3 separate regions of the Homo sapiens genome follow, and regions 1 and 3 are each linked to region 2. The links come from fine-mapping of genetic effects on gene expression. A gene starts in region 2. Each other region holds a variant in brackets. All regions are shown on one strand. Distances are from middle to middle. Region 1 overlaps ZNF605 (zinc finger protein 605). Region 2 holds the start of ZNF605 (zinc finger protein 605). Region 3 overlaps ZNF605 (zinc finger protein 605).

Evidence for each region. PIP is the estimated chance that this variant, and not a neighbour inherited with it, causes the effect. A credible set is the group of variants that fine-mapping cannot tell apart.
Region 1: its variant is the best candidate, but not a certain one, in a credible set for the expression of ZNF605 in whole blood (TOPMed, PIP 0.58).
Region 3: its variant is the best candidate, but not a certain one, in a credible set for the expression of ZNF605 in prefrontal cortex (CommonMind, PIP 0.58).

The regions. Positions count from the first base shown.
Region 1 is chr12:132,918,540-132,925,027 of GRCh38, reverse strand. ZNF605 (zinc finger protein 605) reads left to right here. Exons shown (of 5, transcript NM_183238.4): 5 at 1-6,488. Among named protein-coding and RNA genes, the nearest start is that of CHFR-DT, 34 kb to the right of the region's middle. The variant GCGTTTGAGACCAGC/C (reference allele first, on the strand shown) is at 3,832.
Region 2 is chr12:132,952,538-132,959,025 of GRCh38, reverse strand. ZNF605 (zinc finger protein 605) reads left to right here and starts at 2,720. Exons shown (of 5, transcript NM_183238.4): 1 at 2,720-2,783. LOC124903064 (a long non-coding RNA gene) reads right to left here and starts at 2,477. Exons shown (of 2, transcript XR_007063552.1): 1 at 2,296-2,477. RefSeq lists enhancers at 2,510-2,589, 2,343-3,171, 3,449-3,743, 3,172-4,002 and a silencer at 2,750-3,089.
Region 3 is chr12:132,930,461-132,936,948 of GRCh38, reverse strand. It overlaps ZNF605 (zinc finger protein 605), which reads left to right. Exons shown (of 5, transcript NM_183238.4): 4 at 3,794-3,914. Among named protein-coding and RNA genes, the nearest start is that of ZNF605, 23 kb to the left of the region's middle. The variant T/GTT (reference allele first, on the strand shown) is at 2,853.

The DNA.
Region 1 (6,488 bases), 34 kb after region 2:
ACAAAGTGGAAGATTTCAAGAAAGGACAACTCACTGTACACTTGAGAATAATACCTACAGAGGTTCATACTGAAGAGTAGTCTCAATAATGTAAAGAATTTGACAAGCATGATGCTATTGAAATAGTTCTGTAAGGAAGTGGTGTTCTTTATACATCAATTATTACAAAAAGCAGTGAATTGTAAGTGTGAGGTGTGTTTACTTAGATGTGAAGAGTTCTCCTTACTGCTGTGATGGAATAACAAGGGTCAGATTTCCTCTCCTGCCTTAAACAACTGGAAGCTATACAATACGTATAATAGGTAATGGTTTTTAGACATAGGACAAGCACAGGTTTGTGATCCTCAGGAGACTGCAGACAGAGTGAGGTGAGCACCATGGTTTCTCAGCCTGCCCCCGCATGGCAGTTCCTAGGTTGCAGTTCAGGGAAGGGAAACAATAAATCTCGCTGAATTGAAGAGACAGGACTGGCAGTTGGGGAGGCCACAGCAGCTAGAATTTCCAGGGGAAAGTACTGGAGAGATGGGATCCTTCTAGATACAGGGCTCAAGAAGTCTGCTGGGAGTCCCCTGAGTCCTTTGACTTAGTACTGACTTGCACTGAGGCCAGGAAAAGAAGCACTGGAAAGCAGCAGGCTGAACAATTCCTGGAACTCATGCAGGGCTGGGAATAGTTTATGTTCTCAGCAGCCAGAGTGGAAACAGAGTGGAAACACATGGAGCATCAGGTAGAATTCTCAGAAAGGTTTTGTTTTAGTAGTGCAGCTAATTAACTCTAGATTAAAAGCTACTCTGGACCTACAGTGTCCGGCATCCAAAAAAACTAATGTGTTATGCAAAGAAGCAATAAAATATGACTTATAACCAGGAGAAAAATCAGTAGAAACCCAGAAAAGACAGAGGTGATGGAATTAGTAGACAAGGATATTAAAAGAGCTATTGTAAATATAAAGTAGAGGAAAACATAAGATTGATGAAACCTGAGGTATAAGAGATATTTTTACTGGCCAAAATGGAACTTCTAGGGATGAAATCAACTTCTGATTTTGTTAAAATCCCGAGTGGAGAGATTAGATACAGAAAAAGAAGAAAAAATCAATGAACTTGAAGAGTAAGAATAAAAACTACCAAAGTGATATACAGAGAGAAAAAAAGACTTAGAGAAGAGGAAGAGAATAGGAAAACCATTACAGTAGTGTAATATATGTTTAACTGGAGTCCCAGAAGGAGAGGAGAAAATGAAGAGGCATGAAGAAGTATTTGAATAAATAATGGCTAAAGATTTTCCAAATCTGGTGAAAACAATACCCCCACATATTCAAGAAGCTCAAATGACCTGAAGTAGAATAAACATAATTTACATCACAGCAGTGCACCTCAGAGTCACATTCATGAAAAGCACTGATAAACAGAATACTTTTAAAACACCTTGAGAAAAAAAGATAATACATACACATGAACAAAGAATGGCAGCATATTTCTGGTGAGAACTATGCAAGCTATAAGACAATGGAGTATTATCTCTAAATTCCTTAATGAAATAAACAACAAACCCTGCAACCTAGAATTCTGTTACTGTCAAAAACGTTTTCAAAAATGAAGGCAAAATAAAGACTGTTTCTGAGAAACTAAATCAAAGGTAATTTTATTACCTGTAGACCTGTCTTTGGGAAACATTAAAGGATGTTTGAGGGCAGCAGGAAAATAATACAAAACTTAAGTTTGGGTCTGTACAAAGGAATGAAGTTCTGAAAATGGTGAATATGTGGGTAAATATAAAAGATATTTCTCTCTTTTTAAAATCTTTTTAAAAGGGAATTGGCTGCTTAAAGCCAAAGTAATGATAACGTATTTGGAGTTTATTTAGAAGTAAAGTGTGATGACGATAACACTTAAGTGTGAATTTTTAAATATAGTTGAGTAGACTGCATCATCTGAGTTAGAAGCCTATTCCTTCAGGGCTCGGGGTAGCTTGAATTTGTAGCAGGCACATGACAGAAATTGTATGTATTGTGGATCTGCATGTGTGCTGAGTATTCCCTATTTCTTTGATCCCTTTTCCCCCATTTTCTGCTCTGCTCCCCCCTGAGGCTGTCTTCTAGAGACTGGGGTTTCTTCATAGGTTTGAACAGTGGGAGATACCAGAGGTGGGAGGAGAAAAAGTTATTTATTACCGTTCCCTTCCTCCTGCCTGGACCATGGTAGCTTCTGTGTTCCCGTAAGGATACAGCTTCCTTTGGGAAGCCCCATCTATGGCTGTAGATCTCTCGGTTTCAGTTGACACCATTCCCTCTCCATGATCTTCAGACTTAACTACTACTGGGTGCTTCCCCAACCCACTGGTTGGGTGTCTTTAATTGTGAACACATATTTGTAAATAGTGCCTTTATTAATTGTTCTTGAGTTAATATTCTGAGTGTGCCATTTATTTTCTGTGCCATCTGTTAAATGATGAGCATTTAATAAAATTGTGATAATCAGTTATCAGTACAAGTGCCGCATAGTGCATAGGCTGAAATGTCTCAAGATTCCCCACACTACATATCAGTATTTTCTATCTGTATCTGGACAATGCAGTAGAAATTATAACAAATACAAAGTTCTTTGTGCTTTTCTGCTGCATATGTCAGTGGCTCTGGAGATTGTTACCATCTGCTACATATATAAATAGACTTGCAGTTATTACTAAGCTCCTCTTCAGTAATAGAAAGACTTATGAAGTCTTTTACTACCTCTGGGTTAGCCAAACAACCTTCAAAAAGCATTGTTATTTAGGTTAAATATCTGTGGACAAGAAACAAGATAATCAGTTACTGAGTGAAGAAAGACGGGAATGATGTCCCATACTTCCCAGCTCTCTAAAGTGTTATGCTGTACAATTAAAATACCCCTGACCCATCATCTGCTACCATTCGTTGTGGATAATTCATGTAATCTCTAACCTGTGGGCAAGTCTTTACCCTTCAGTAGTCAAGATTACGTTAGAGACTTCGTCCACGAATCCACACCACCTTTCCCATCAGTTCTCACCGGAAATATGCTGCCAAAAAGAAAATCAGCTTTTCTAAGATCAAGCCAGAGTTGCTTCTCTTACAACCTTACGGCGCTAATGCATTAAGTTGAAGTCGACTGCCAAAGAGGCCCAGCAGAGGGCAGCACCCCCATCATTTTTTTGAATTTCTCCCTTAGGAATTTTGCCTTCCTTTGTCTTCTGTCCACCAGGCCTTCTCTCCAGCTGGACACAAACCTCCTTTGAAGGGAAATAATTGCCGTTAGGCTTCACAGTAGTGCTTTTTCCTTTCACTTGGATTTGCATTTTAACCTGCATTTCGAAGATTTTTATACATGTTTTCTATTTCCGACAATGCCAGGAGGCTTCATTGACGTTGTAGTCTGTGTTAATAAACTTGTGTATCACTCTGCTCTGATCTTTTAGGAATTAACTTGCAAATGAAATGAATATGTTGGGACTTTGGCATAATTTGAATATAGCATTGTGTGAGTTGTGATTGTCTCTTCCTAATTGTGCTGTAATAACCTGTGTATGAGAATAAAATGATTTCCACCATCAGGATTCTCCCATGCCCCCCTTTATTTTGCCATAGACTAAAGGGGAAAGGCCATTCTCACTCTCCTTACCTTAGAAAATTTTATTTGCCTCATGATGACTGTCTGCCGCTTAGAAGTAGACAATATAAAATCTCATCACTATTTCACAAGAATAAAATTCAAATCAGTTATATCCAAAGTAACTTTTCAACTGGGGGTGGTGTCTCACACCTGTAATCCCAGTGCTTGGGGAGGCCAAATTGGGAGGACCGCTTGAGCCCAG[GCGTTTGAGACCAGC/C]TGGACAACATAGCAAGACTCATCTCTACAAAAAAAAAATTTAATTAGCCATGAGAGGCTGGGTGCAGTGACGCAAGCCTGTAATCCCAGCACTTTGGGAGGCCGAGGTGGGTGGATCACCTGAGTTCAGGAGTTCGCGACCAGCCTGAATAACATGGTGAAACCCCGTCTCTACTAAATACAAAAAAATTAGCCGGGCATGGTGGCACATGCCTGTAATCCGAGCTACTTGGGAGGCTGAGACAAGAGAATCACTTGTACCTGGGAGGAGGAGGTTGCAGTGAGCCGAGATCACGGCATTGCACTCCAGTCTGGGCAACAAGAACAAAACTCCATCTCAAAAAAAAAGTTAGCCATGATGGTGCATGTCTGTAATCCCAGCTACTTGGGAAGCTGAGGCAGAAGGGTCACTTGAGCCCAGGAGTTCAAGGCTGCAGTGAGCCATGATGGGGCCACTGCATTCCAGCCTGAGTGACAGAGTGAAACCTTGCCTCTTAAATGAATAAAAATAAAGTAAGCTTTCTTCAACAAGTTTTCTTCCAACGCCACACACTCCATCACCATATTAATTTAAATTATTTAGTATGTAGCAGATTTACTTTGAGACCAAATCTGTGAAGTTGGTGATGATATTTAATAATTCTTTATTTCCCTTATGGGATCTTTGCAACTTAGAACACAATTATTACTCATTGTATCCGGGTCATTTAACATCTTGTCAGAATGCTAACATTAAATAAACCAGGCCAGGCGCGGTGGCTCACGCCTGTAATCCCAGCACTTTGGGAGGCCAAGGCGGGTGGATCACGAGGTCAGGAGATCGAGACCATCCTGGCTAACACGGTGAAACCCCGTCTCTACTAAAAATACAAAAAATTAGCCAGGTGAGGTGGCCAGCGCCTGTAGTCCCAGCTACTCAGGAGGCTGAGGCAGGAGAATGGCGTGAACCTGGGAGGTGGAGCTTGCAGTGAGCCAAGATCACACCACTGCACTCCAGCCTGGGTGATAGAGCGAGGCTCTGTCTCAAAAAAATAAATAAATCAGGCGCTGGGCGCGGTGGCTCACACCTGTAATCATAACACTTTGGGAGGCTAAGGCAGGCAGATCACAAGGTCAGGAGTTCGAGACCAGCCTGGCCAATATGGTGAAACCCCATCTCTACTAAAAATGCAAAAATTAGCCGGGCTTGGTGGCACGTGTGTAGTCCCAGCTACTCCGGAGGCTGAGGCAGGAGAATCGCTTGAACCCAGGAAGCCGATGTTGCAGTGAGCTGAGATCACACCACTGCACTCCAGCCTGGGTGACAGAGCAAGACTCCATCACACACACACACAAAAAAACAGGGAACACCAAACTTATTTAGTGATACCTAAATCTCGAAATGTGCACAGCAAAAAGAATGTAGCTATCGAGGCATTCACTGTTAAGATGAAAAGAAATGTAAGTGAAGGGACATTTATAACTTGAAGTTCTCATTTAAGAATTACTGGCCAGGGCCGGGCATGGTGGCTCATGCCTGTAATCTCAGCACTTTGGGAGGCCAAGATGGGTGGATCACGAGGTCAGGAGATTGAGACCATCCTGGCTAACAAGGTGAAACCCCGTCTCTACTAAAAATACAAAAAATTAGCCGCGCGTGGTGGCGGGCGCCTGTAGTCCCAGCTACTCGGGAGGCTGAGGCAGGAGAATGGCGTGAACCCGGGAGGCGGAGCTTGCAGTGAGCTGAGATCGCGCCACTGCACTCACTCTGGCCTGAGCGACAAAGCGAGACTCCATCTCAAAAAAAAAAAAAAAAAAAAAAAAGGCATTACTGGCCAGATGTGGTGGCTCATGCCTGCAATCCCAGGACTTTGGGAGGCCCAGCTGGGAGGAGAGGAGAGCTTGAGCCCAAGAGTTTGAGGCCAGCCTGGGCAACATAGTGGCACTTTGTTCTCCACAAAAATAATTAATAAAGCAAGTAAGCATTCCTATCACTAAAAGTACTTAAAAAAACAAATCAAGCTTAAACTTACAATAGGGGGTGGGAGAAGTGAATTAACTTTTTATTTTCATTAGTGCGTGCTCATGTGAAAGGAGCAGTTAGGCAATGGAGTGTTACCACTGCAGCCAGGCAGGTCTAGTGTAGATTCGTCCCCAAACCATGGTATTTGCCAGGCAGCTCTGAGGGTATGAACAAGGCATGTGCATTGTGTCCTGTTGTGTGTAATGCGTTTGTATGAAGCAGATTCTGTAAGAAGATGATGTTGGCTGAGATGTGGGCCAGCTGTACTTCACTGCTTCATTACAAGGGTAAGGCTGGCCAGGTGCGATGGCTCACGCCTGTCATCCCAGCACTTTGGGAGGCCAAGGTGGGTGGATCACTTGAGTTCAGGAGCTCAAGAGCAGCCTGGCCAACATGGCAAAACCCTATCTCTACTAAACATACAAAACAAAAAAAATAGCCGGGTGTGGTGGAGCACCTGTAAACCCAGCTGCTCGGGAGGCTGAGGTGGGCAAATCACATGAACCCAGGAGTTGGAGGTTGCAGTGAGCCAAGATGGCACCACCACTGCACTCCAGCCTGAGCAACAGAGTGAGACTCCGTCTCAAAAAAAGAGAAAACAAGGGTGGGGCTAAAAGGCTAATAGCTAACTGAAAATGAGC
Region 2 (6,488 bases):
AAAATTTTCTGAGAACAAAAACAAAACTACCTTAAAGCAGAATTTTAATTTTAGCTCTGTTGAGCATGGAATTGGTTTGCTTAAATAAAGTTGAATCTCAGTTAGAAGCAGGGCAATGTGGGCTGGGTACGGTGGCTCAGGTCTGTAATCCCAGCACTTTGGGAGTCCGAGACGCATGGATCACCAGAGGTCAGGAGTTTGAGACCAGCCTTGCCAACATGGTGAAACCCATCTCTACTAAAAATACAAAAAGTAGCTGGGAGTGGCTGGGCGCAGTGGCTCACGCCTGTAATCCCAGCACTTCGGGAGGCCGAGGCAGGCGGATCACGAGGTTAAGAGATCAAGATCAGCCTGACCAACATGGTGAAACCACGTCTCTACTAAAAATACAAAAATTAGCCGGGCGTGGTGGCGCACGCCTGCAATCCCAGCTACTCGGGAGGCTGAGGCAGGAGAATCACTTGAACTCAGGAGGCGGAGGCTGCAGTGAGCCGATATTGTGCCACTGCACTCCAGCCTGGGCGACAAGAGCAAAACTCCATCTCTCACAGGCTCCAAATTTACTAATATAGAATTGAGCAAAATATTATTTCATATATACTTTAATTTGGTCTTTATGGCCATTTCAATTTTTTAAATTGCCAATTGTGAGTGTGTTTCCTGTTTCTCCCCATTTTTATTTTAAAAAACTAATATGCTTTTACAGTTTTTCTTTTTCTTTTTTTTTTTTTTTAGACAGAATCTCACTCTGTCTCCCAGGGTGGAGTGCAGTGGTGAGATCTCAGCTCACTGCAACCTCTGCCTCCTGGGTTCAAGCAATTCTCATGCCTCCACCTCCTGAGTAGGTGGGATTACAGGTATGAGCCATTACAGGCATGAGCCACCACACCTGGCTAATTTTTATATTTTTAGTACAGATGGGGTTTCACCATGTTGGTCAGGCTGGTCTCGAACTCCTGACCTCAGGTGATCCGCCCGCCTTAGCCTCCCAAAGTGCTGGGATTACAGGTGTGAGCCACCGCGCCTGGCCTGGCCAAAAAATATTTTTAAGAGAAGGTGTCTCCCTCTGTGGCCCAGGCTGGAGTGCAGTGTTGCCATCATAGCTCACTGCAGCCTCAACCTCCCAGGCTCAGGCAATCCTCCTGCCTCAGCCTCCAGTAGTTGGGACTACAGGGACAAGCCACTGCTTTATATATCCATAAATATATTTTATTTCCCTGTAATGTCCTCATCTCATTTATTTTTCCTTTTTTTTTTCTTGAGATGAGGTCTCACTCTGTTGCCAGGCTAGAGTGCAGCGGCATGATGGCTCACCGCAACCCCCGCCTCCCGAGTTCAAGTGATTCTCCTGCCTCAGCCTCCCGAGTAGATGGGATTACAGGCGCCCACCACCACGCCCAGCTAATGTTCTGTATTTTTAGTAGAGACGGGGTTTCACCGTGTTGGCCAGGATGGTCTCAATCTCCTGACCTGGTGATCCGCCCACCTCAGCCTCCCAAAGTGCTGGGATTACAGCCGTGAGCCACCGCGCCCAACCCTATCATCTATTTTCATTCCTTTTGTCAATACTGCTGGATTGGATGTACTAAATGTAAGGTCCTCTGAGCTGGCCGCACCATGGTCAAGCCATCGTGACATTCCCCCACCCTTGTGATAATGTACTTTGTAATATTCCCGGTCCTTGTGAATGTACTTTGTAACATTCCTCTCCGCCCTTGTGACAATACACCCTCCCCGCCCTTGTGAATGTACTTTGTAACATCCTCCCCTGCCCGCAAAAAATTGCTGCTGAGGCCGGGCGCGGTGGCTCACGCCCGTAATCCCAGCACTTTGGGAGGCCGAGGAGGGCGGATCACGAGGTCAGGAGATCAAGACCATCCTGGCTAACACAGTGAAACCCCGTCTCTACTAAAAATACAAAAAAATTAGCCGGGCGTGGTGGCGGGTGCCTGTAGTCCCAGCTACTCAGGAGGATGAGGCAGGAGAATGGCGTGAACCCGGGAGGCGGAGCTTGCAGTGAGCCGAGATCGCGCCACTGCACTCCAGCCTCGGCGACAGAGTGAGACTCTGTCTCAAAAAAAAAAAAAAAAAAAAAAATTGCTGCTGACTCCACCGCCTATCCTATCCCAAAGCTATAAGAACCAATGACAAGCCCACCACCCTCCGCTGACTCCTTTCTCAGACTCAGCCCACTTGCACCCAAGTGAATAAACAGGCGTGTTGCTCACACTTAGCCTGCTCAGGTGGTCTCCTATACGGACGCACGTAACACTAACATTTACCGATATTACTTACAGCTACGATGAAAAATGGAAAAGCAGCCGGACGCAGTGACTCATGCCTGTAATTCCAGCATTTTGGGAGGCTGGGGCAGGAGGATCATTTGAACCCAGGAGTCGGAGACCAGCCTGAGGCTGCAATGAGCGTTCATGGCACCACTGCACTCCCCACTGGGTGACAGAGCGAGACCCTGCCTCCAAAAAAAAAAAAAAAAAAAACAAGGAAAAGATGCAGACGCTTCCTCCTGGAGGCGCCTTTAGGTTCTCTCACAGACATGTTGGGCCAGCAGTGCTGGCTCCATCCTAGATTTCTTCCAGTCCTCCCCAGTTAGCCGCCAAGGGGCTTTTCCAACCGGAAACCTCCAATCCGCGACCCCGGCGGGTGCACCGCCGAGCCCCCCGGGAAGTGTAGTTCCAGCGCGAGCGGGACGCTGGGAAATGTAGTTCTGCGCGTTCACGTCCCCGATCGGGCCGTGTCCGCCGCGGCCCTGCGAGGTCCGAGGGGTAAGGGAGCGTGCAGCGGGGGCGGGACCACGAGGCGGCGGGGCTGGGGGCGGCCTCTGTGTCTGCGCCGGGGATCGCGGTGACCCCGCTGCGGACCGGCTCGCGGTGACCCCAGCGCGAACGAGCTGGCTGCCGGCTGGGGCGAGAAAGGCCTGCGGACCGGCCTGGGCGCATGCGCGGAAGGCGGGCCTCAGGCGGGGGCTCTGGGGGCGCGCGGGGGTGGGAGGCAGAGGGTGGGGTGGGGGCTGTAGGGCGGGCGGCGGCGGGGCGCTGAATGTGGGTGTCGGGGGAGATTTGGGGTCAGCTGGGCGATTCACTGGGGGCCTATGGAGGTCGCTGTAGACTTGGGGTGCAGCACGGGCGGGGCAAGGGGACGCGAGGTTGCCCTTGGCCCCAGGGGAGAGGGGCCCCTGGGAGGCCGTGTGGAGGATTTGTCTGCAGCGATTAGGACTCTGCTGATGAATGATTTGGATGCCTTTGGGTGAGCATTGGAGGCCAGCGGGGTGAATGATGAGGCTTCTGCGGGGGCCTGCGTTGGAGGGCTTAGGGGCTTGCTTGTGTGGGTTCCATTCACTGGAAAGCCTGCCGGCTGTGACAGTGTTGGATTTCACCAGAGCCCTGTGCTCCTGGAAAACAGCGAAGGTTGAGGAATTTCCCACCCTTTTGGGTTCCAGCAAATGGCTCACTGCAAAGATCTCCCGTTCCCTATATGACTTTGGTCAGCCTCCAGGATGCCCCTTGTTCACACAGACCTGCCACGTTGCCGTCGCTTGCCTCATCGGTGACTGGCTGAACTCCACCGAGCGGTCGGAGCAAAATGCTCCTTAAGCAAACTTTAGCTAAGCTTCTTTCCTTTCCCCATTTTCTTGAGCTTTGGCCCATCCCCAGCCTGAGCCAACACGCAGCCTCGCCTGAGAACAGGCTGGCTCAGGGTCAAGCTTTCCCCGCTCTGCTGTCTGGTCGCCCGCACTTCCACCTCGCTTGGCCAGGCCTGGTCTTTGCTAACCTTGTTCACACCTCTCTGTGAAAGAAAAACCCTTTTTGCCTTGCAGAGATGCACGTGAGTCTCGTGGCTTCACGGTTCTTCCCAGAAGCCCGTTCTCCTTCCCCTTCCCAACCCTCTTCCGCGTCTTTTTTTCCCCACTTCCAATAACCCTTTGGAACCGTCTTTCTTTGCTCTGTCCAGTTGTATGTTTTATTTGACAGCTGAATAACAGTGGTTGCTCTTTCAACCCCTGTCTCCAATAGCGGAGGCGAGTATGGGGTGGCCTATGCTGGCGAGTGGCTGGGGTTTGTTTCTGTGCTTGTGTTTGGGGATCTTATGATGGAAGCATTAGGAATGGCGCTGTGTATTTGTGACAAGGGAGTCTGGATGTAAGTTAATGGTGGACCTGTTGCAAGTTGTGAGTGCGTGGACAACGGGGGTCATACTTGGCGTCATTGGAGGGGCCTGCGGGATCGGCATTTGTGCAGAGCCCCACAATCCCTTTCCAGGTGGTGTTTGGGAGGGCCTGTGGGAATGTCAGTGAATGCTCCAGCATGGAGTGGATTAGAGAATGGGGTGTCATGGGGGCGAATGCTTGGGGGCCCCGGGGATAAGGGATTAGGGATCCCTGGGCATTGAGTGACTGGGGTCTAATTTAGGGGGTCTGTGGCGCAAGCCTCAGAATGTCAGTTACAGGGGAGGGGCTCTGTGAGCGCCTGACTTGGGCACCTGATGAAGTGAGTGAATGGAGACCAGTGTGTTCGTCCCAGGACAGAAGCCCCTTCTCCTCCCCTCCCCACCCTTCTCCTCCCCTCCCTACCCTTCTCCTCCCCCATCCTTCTCATCCCCTCCCCACCTCACCTGCAGGAGTGACTGAAGCCCCTTCTCCCCCGCTCCCCACCCTTCTCCTCCCCTCCCCAGCTCATCTGCAGGAGTATCTGAGTTCTGTGGGGATCCTTTGGGACTCAGAGTTTGGGGTTTCAGTCTGTGGTGATTCTTAAGTGGGGCTTTGGGGGTGCTGGTGATTATGGTGTCTGGCATCTGTATTTAAAAGCCCTGTGGGAGTCACTGAGGTCCAGTCATCAGTTGGGCCTGTAGGGATAACTCTGCCTGGCCTGTGAGGTCTATGGTGTGACGTAGGAATGGTAAGTGTCTGGGGGCCTGTGGAGGATTAGGAATAAAGGGTCCAGTGTACATCGTTGAATGGGGGACAGTTTTATTGGCTCGTGCCCTGGCATTGGCTTTGTTATTTGAGGGTGTTGGAACCAGGTGAGAAGGAGCTTGTTTGTATTAGTGACCGGGTACCAGAGATGACTGAATGACTGATGGGGTGGGCAGTGAGGTCTGTGAGGAGGAATGATCGGAGGGCTTGGGATCAATGCCAAGTATGCGTGCAAGTGTCTGTGATGGGTGTGCGGGTGGGTGAGGGTGAGAAATTGGGGACCCTGTGGGTGTCAGTGAGAGGGAAGCCTGGGGAGCCTAAGAGTTTGTTTGCCATTTGCGGTGAATGTGGAGTTAGAAGTTAGTGGCCTTAGCTGGGCACCGTGGCTCACACCTGTAATCCCAGCACTTTGGGAGGCTGAGGCAGGCAGATCAGGAGGTCAAGAGATCCACACCATCCTGGCCAACATGGTGAAACCCCGTCTCTACTAAAAATACAAAAATTAGCTGGGCATGGTGGTGGGCGCCTGTAATCCCACCTACTCAGGAGGCTGAGGCAGGAGAATTGCTTGAACCCAGGAGGCAGAGGTTGCAGTGAACCGAGATTTTGCCACTGCACTCCAGCCTGATGACAGAGTGAGACTCCATCTTAAAAAAGATAATAATAAGTTAGTGGCCTTTGGGTATCTGTGATTAGTGGTCTATACTGTGCCAGTCTGTGGAGTCTGTGGTCAGGTGTTTCTGGAGGCTGTTGTGGGGCCACTAGAGTTACCGCCTGGGGTCTTTGTTGGATGGTCACTGGGGAACCCATAGTGTGTGTCTCTGAAGGCCCTGGAGGGGCGGCCTCTTGGGGAGAGAGACTGGGTGGCCTGTGAAGTCAGCCATTGTGGTCCTGTGGGAGTGATGGGGGCACATGGGGTGAGTGAGAGTGGGGTTGATGGGGTTCGGTGGTTGTGTGGTCTGGAGGTCTGTGAAGCAGGCCTATTGGATTCAGTGATCTGGGGATGTCTTGGGATGTGGACCTGGAGAATTCTCAGGTGGTCACTGTGAGTGACTGGGGGACTTGGGATGCTGGAGGTTGGCAGGGGCTTGGAGCTGCGGAGTTCAGTGGTTTGTGTCTGGGGTGTGTGTGTGATGGAGGCCCTCTCTGGGACTTGGTAATCCGGGGAACTTGGCAGGGCCGTGTTGGTGGGTCTGGAAGCAGATCCGAATGTGAATGGGTCGTGGGTTGGCTCAGGCAAGCCTCTCGTGAGTGACAGGTCTTTTTGCCCTTTGGCCCTCTCCTTGTAGCTTGTGACCGCTGATCAGTGATCACTCTTTTTACGTGATTATTTCCTTTTTTAAAAGTTCTCAGTGACCCCGTTGGCCTTAAGGTCTTCTCCTTGTAGAATTTCCCCCTTGCTGTTTGTACCTCCTAGGCCTCTTCCATCCCTCCTGATGACCTCCGGCTCCCCCACCCAAGACCTTTGCATCTGAGGTGCCTGGAGTGGTGTGGTCGGCCCAGCCTTCCGTGGCGGACTGCTCCTGCTTCAGGCTCAGCTAAAAGCCACCTCCTCCCA
Region 3 (6,488 bases), 22 kb after region 2:
AATTTTCTCTTAGTCTGTGCCGTGCCTTCTCTTTCTCTTAACATTGTCTTTCACAGAGCAAAAGTTCTTAATTTTGAAAAAGTCCAATTTATCAAATTTTTTTCTTAAATTGATCAGGCTTTTGGTGTTGTATCTAACTCATTGCCAAACCCAAAGTCACACAGGTTTTCTTTGGTTTTCTTCTAAAAGTTTTATAGTTTTTTATGTTTAGGTCTGTGATCCATTTTGAGTTAGTTTTGATATAAGGTGTGAGGTATGTGTTGAGATCCCTTTTGCTTATGAGTATAAAATTGTTGAGACATTATTTGTCACAAAGACTGTAGAATTGCTTTTTGTACTTTTGTGAAACAATTGAGTATATTTGTAGGGGCTTATTTTTGAGTTCTGTGTTCTGTTCCATTAACTTGTGTTTTTATCCTTTCACAAATGCCATCCTGCCTTAATTACTGTGGTTGCATAGGAAGTCTTGAAATCAAGTAATGTGAGTCCTTTTATGTTTAAACTATTTTGAATATAAATGTGCCTCTTTCGTAGGCAGCATGTAGCTGGGGTTGCTTTATATTTTCCATTTCTGAGCTTTTGCTTTATTATTTCTTCTGGTCTATCTTCCAATTCACTTATTCTCTCTTTATCTTTTCCTAATCTACTCTTAAGCCCTTCCATTGACTTCTTAACTTTACTTATTATGCATTTTATCTCTAGAAGTTATATTTCATTTTTTTCAAATCTGCTTATTCATTTTTATAGTCTTCTGATTATTTTTCGTACTTTCATTAACCTCTCATTTCTTTGAATATATTAAATATATTTATTTTATATTCTGTGCTGACAGTTCAAATATCCTAAGTCTTTTATACCACTCCTGTTTGTTTTTTTTTGGTTTTTTTTGAGATGGAGTCTTGCTCTGTCGCCCAGGCTGGAGTGCAGTAGCGCCATCTCGGCTCACTGCAAGCTCCACCTCCTGGGTTCACGCCATTCTCCTGCCTCAGCCTCCCGAGTAGCTGGGACTACAGGCACCCACCACCACGCCCGGCTAATTTTTTTTTTTTTTTTTTTAAGACAGAGTCTCACTCTGTCACCCAGGCTGGAGTCCAGTGGTACGATCTCTGCTCATTGCAACCTCCGCCTCCCGGGTTCACGCCATTCTCCTGCCTCAGCCTCCCGAGTAGCTGGGACTACAGGCGCCCACCACCATGCCCGGCTAATTTTTTTGTATTTTTAGTAGAGATGGGGTTTCACCATGTTAGCCAGGATGGTCTCGATCTCCTTACCTCGTGATCCACCTGCCTCGGCCTCCCAAAGTGCTGGGGTTACAGGCGTGAGCCACCGCACCTGGATGATTTTTTTTTTATGTGTGCATTCCGGTTTCTCTTTTACTCTGTACTCATTTTTCTTGAATCTTTATTTGTGAGAATTATTTTGATCTCTTTCTCTAAATAGAATTTGCATTTGATTCTGCCGGATGCCTGAATGCATGGCCCCCTCAAAAACACTTTAGAACTCTCTGTGCTTAAGGTTTTTGCAAAACACATCTATACTGGAGTTGAGCCCACACACCCATATAAATCCAGCTTGTTATAATTCTCAGGGACAATTTTTGACCTCTTTGTGTAACACTAACATTTGAGGCAAGAAATTGATTTTCTTTGATTTTTTTTTCATTGACCCACACACGGAGTACTCCTTGTGTTCCAGCTTTATGAGGGAAAATAACCTATTAGTCCCCTATGCTTGGGCTTATTCTAAGCTTTCCTCCTTTTTCCTGTGTCCCTTGTAGCTGCTGGGACTGGAATGCTCAAATTTACTTGAGTCCAGCTGAAGGCTGGCCTCTGCTTACCTCTCTAGGTTTCCACGTTCCCTTTTAAAGAGGCCAGGACCATTCCCACCGCTCCCACTCCCTCTCTTATATTCCTGAACTTTCATCCCTCAGAAAACACACTTTATTTCCATGTCTTTGCTCATGCTGCTGCCTTGAGAGTGTCCTTTTCCTCATCCCCCTCTGTAACCAGGACTTTCTAAAGACCCTTTCTAAGCCTTACTGTCTTTACAGCACCTAACCCAGTGTTGTTAAATCCAGTGTTTTTATCCCCGTTTTGTCTCTATATTCTGTAAATGCTAGCTTCATAGCCCTGTAACCTTATTCACTCTGGCCTGAAAGGTACTTGAGAATGTGATTTTTTTCTACTCATTTTTAAATTTCTAGTACCTGTTATGGTTCCTGGAATCTTTTTTTTTTTTTTTTTTTAGACGGAATCTTGCTCTGTCACCAGGCTGGAGTGCAGCGGCACAATCTCAGCTCACTGCAACCTCTACCTTCTGGGTTCAAGCTATTCTCCTGTCTCAGCCTCCCGAGTAGCTGGGATTACAGGCACACACCACCACACTTGGCTAATTTTTGTATTTTTGGTAGAGATGGGGTTTTACAGTGCTGGCCAGGCTGGTCTCCAACTCCTGACCTCAGGTGATCCACCTGCCTTGGCCTCCCAAAGTGCTGAGATTTCAGGTGTGAGCCACCACACCCAGATGGTTCCTGGAATCTTAATTGCTCAATATGTGTGTTTTGGAAGATACCTAAAATAGCTGGCCAGTTCTTACTTGGGAGCAGAATCACTCCCAGAGGAAAGAGAGTGTTTTTGTTTTTGTTGTTGTTTATTTATTTATTTATTTATTTGAGACAGAGTCTTGCTCTGTTGCCCAGGCTGCATGCAGGTGCACGATCTTGGCTCACTGCAACCTCCACCTCCCAGGTTCAAGTGATTCTCCTGCCTCAGCCTCCCTGGTAGCTGGGATTGCAGGTGCCCACCACCACCCCCAGCTAATTTGTGTGTGTGTGCATGTGTGTGTGTGTGTGT[T/GTT]TAATAGAGTTGGGGTTTCACCATGTTGGCCAGGCTGGTCTTGAATTCCTGACCTCAGGTGATCCGCCCACCTCAGCCTCCCAAAGTGCTGGGATTACAGGCATAAGCCACCGTGCCCAGCCAGTGACTGAGAGATATTACTGTCATTAGCAGACAGAGGCCAGGCATGCTGAAGGGCTCAACTGCATGGAACAGTATTCCTTACCTAAGAATGGTTCTCAAATACTAGTGGCACCTTCTTTGAGAACCACTGTATTGTTTAAAGACAACCTATTCTGGTTTCTTGTTCAGTGGATAGGTACATGGATGAATGAATTCACAATGATAAATATTTTTAAAACATTCCTTCCTCAAGGCATAATGCAAGATTATTATATTTATTATATTAGATTATATTGGTTATTCATTATTGTGTCACAAATTACCCCAAACCTCAAGGGCTGAAAACAACAAACATTGATCTGTTTCTGGGTTTTGGAATCTGCCAGGTACTTGCCCAGTTGGTTCTGGTTGAGGGTCTCACATGATGCAGTGATGAAGGTGTTGAGAAGGGCTGCAGCGAGGAAGGAGCTGGCTCCTCCAGGCTCACTCAGTGGCTGTTGGGAAGCCTCAGTTCCACGGCACATGAGCTTCCACATGGCGGCCTTACAACACAGCAGCCAGACTCCTCCAGAGAGAGAGAGTGCCCAGGATAGAAGTTGCATTTCTTTCTAACCTAGTCTTGGAAGTGGCATCTCATCATGTTTCCCTGTTCTGTTCAGGACAATGAGTCAGTGAGTCCAGCCCACGGTCAAGAGGGGAGGATTATGCAAAAGCATGAATACCGGAGTCAGAGGTCACTGGGGCCATCTTAGAGGCCACCTACCACAAATACAGAAGAAAGTATTTTACAAGACCAAATGAGAACCACTTCAGGTTTAACAGGGATTATGCTTTTCCAGATATCATTTGAGGATGTGGCTGTGGATTTCACGCTGGAGGAATGGCAGCTACTTAATCCTACTCAGAAGAACTTGTACAGAGATGTGATGTTGGAGAACTATAGCAATCTGGTTTTCTTGGGTAAGAACATTCTTATGTAACTTAGTGTATGGCCAGTAACTGGCCTGTGAGGTGTTTGTTTATTTTGGATGTAAGTTTTACATGTCAAAGATTATTTGACTTTTATACTGAATTGAAAGATTTTCATTCACTTGCTTTATTTTGCAGCCTTTATAATAAAACATTCTACATATTTAAGACTCTTAGCCCAGGCAGTTAGGTCCAAGTCCTCTGTGTTTCCAATCGACAGGTTTTCAAATTCTCAAACCTGATGCAATGTTCAAACTGGAACAACAAGATCCATGGATAATAGGTCAAGAAATCCTAAATCAGAACTTTTCAGGTGAGGAATAATCAGGTTTATGAGATACAGTGAACATTTTATCTCAGGTTTTTGATGACAGGTGGGCACTTTTAAAGTGTTGTTTATAAAACTGTGTTTAAAGTTCCTGAATCTTTAGAGTTGACTCAAGATTGGTGACATGAGTTTTAATGGATGTGCTCCATAACCTGGTCTCCACATCGGGATGTGTCTTTTCTCCATGGAGTTTATGATGAAATGTATCCCTCTTATTCAGTGGCATAGATTGGTGGCCATTTACAACCCCACTTTCTTAGTTAAGGCTCTCTTTATGAATTCATAATTTTTTTCTTCTTTTAGATAACACTGATTGCCTTTGAGTTTATTTAAACTTCAAACTTTTAATTTATTATTTTTCTTCTCTTCCTCTAATTTGATATATTTCTATTTTAAAACCACAGAGAGTAGAAGATGAACCCACTGATACAGAGTGAAAATCTAGGCTGGGCGCAGTAGCTCATACTGTAATCCTCATGCTGTGGAGGTTGGGGAGAGGGCAGGGCACGACAGTCACTTAAGGCCAGGAGTTTGAGACCAACCTGGGCAACAAAGCAAGACCCCATATCTACTACTACTAATAATACCTAACAATAATAATAATAATTCAGCCAAATATGGTGGTGTGCACCTCTAGTGCCAGCTACCTGGGAGGCTGAGGTGGGAGGATTGCTTGACCCAAGGAGCTGGAAGCTGCAGTGTGCCATGGATGTGCTAGGCAACAGAGTGAGACCCTGTCTCTAAAAACAAAAACACACACACACAAAACCCTAATACCTTAAACATAGTAAGGAGATTTTGCTTCTTACCTTCCTCTGTACAAACTAAGGATTTTCAAGTCAGTTCCCAGTGCATCTTTCTGGTACATTTGATGTTTAACTTCTCTAAAGCTTCTCTCTCATACCATCACATAGTCAGGTGGGTTTAAGTCTCCATTACCTGCTGTGTGATATTTAATCTCCGTTTTTGTTGAAGAATCTCATGGTATGGGAACATCTTATCTCTCCACTTATTTTTCTATGCTCAAGAGTCATTATTAACTCCATTTGAGCTAGATTTGTGCTCAAGAGTCATTATTAACTCCATCTGAGCTAGATTCTTCCTCACACGCTCTTCTGAAATTTTTCTCTGCATCTGTACCTCTGATTATGGTACATTTTCCCCAGGTAGACTTCACTTTGAGCTCTTTTCTTCAACTTCAGTGAATGTTCCTTGACTCACAGCTTTCTCTGAAATCTCTATCCACGTAGCATCTATAGTATAGTAACTCAGGCCTGATGGACATTATCTGAAATTCCTAAAACAACTAGTCCTAAGATTTTTTTCCCCATAAAGAGAGATTGCCAGTAACGTAGTCTGTGTTCTCTGTGGAATTTGTGGTATGCACTTACTTGATTTTTAAAAATTGGTTATTATGGACCCAGATAAGGAAAGGTCTTGTTTATCAGATGTCCCTTCAGTAGAAAAGTTTCCATCTAAGCCTCTACCCTGGGAAATATTTATTTAAAAAATTTTTTTGAGACAAGGTCTCACTTTGTCACGCAGGTTGGAGTACAGTGGCGCAGTCACAGCTTACTGCAGCCTTAACCTATCTGGACTCATGAGCTCCTCCCACTTTAGCCTCCCCAGTAGCTGAGACTACCACCACACCAAGCTAATTTTTAAAAATTTGGTTTTTCTGGAGAGACAGGATCTCACTATGTTGCCCAGGCTGGTCTCAAACTCTGGGTTCAAGTGATCCTCCCGCCTTGGCCTCCCCAAGTGCTGGGATTACAGGAAGAGCCATAATGCACAGCAGGGAAACTGAGATTACAGGGGTGAGGCATAATGCACAGCAGGGAAATATTTCGGGTTACAGATGTCTGGGCACCATTCCCATTGTTGTTTAGGTCTGAGTGTGTGCAGTTTGGAAAAGCTGTAAAGATAGTTGTTATATTCCCCTATTAATTTAGAACCACTTCTCATGTGGAATGAGAGGAATTGAAATGAGTCATGAAATAACTTTATAGGATTTTAATTTAGAAGACAATATAAAACCATAAAATATTTAGTGATGCAGTATTTGAACATGAAGCATTTGTGTTAAAGTGCAAAATTAATTGCCAAGATTAATGATACCAAAAGGAACTATATTAGAAGCTCAATGACAAGTGAATAATATTTATCCTACCTATATTGAGGGCTTGTTATGTGCTATGCAGTGGGGGTACATTAGTGAAAAAGACAAACCTGTTCCC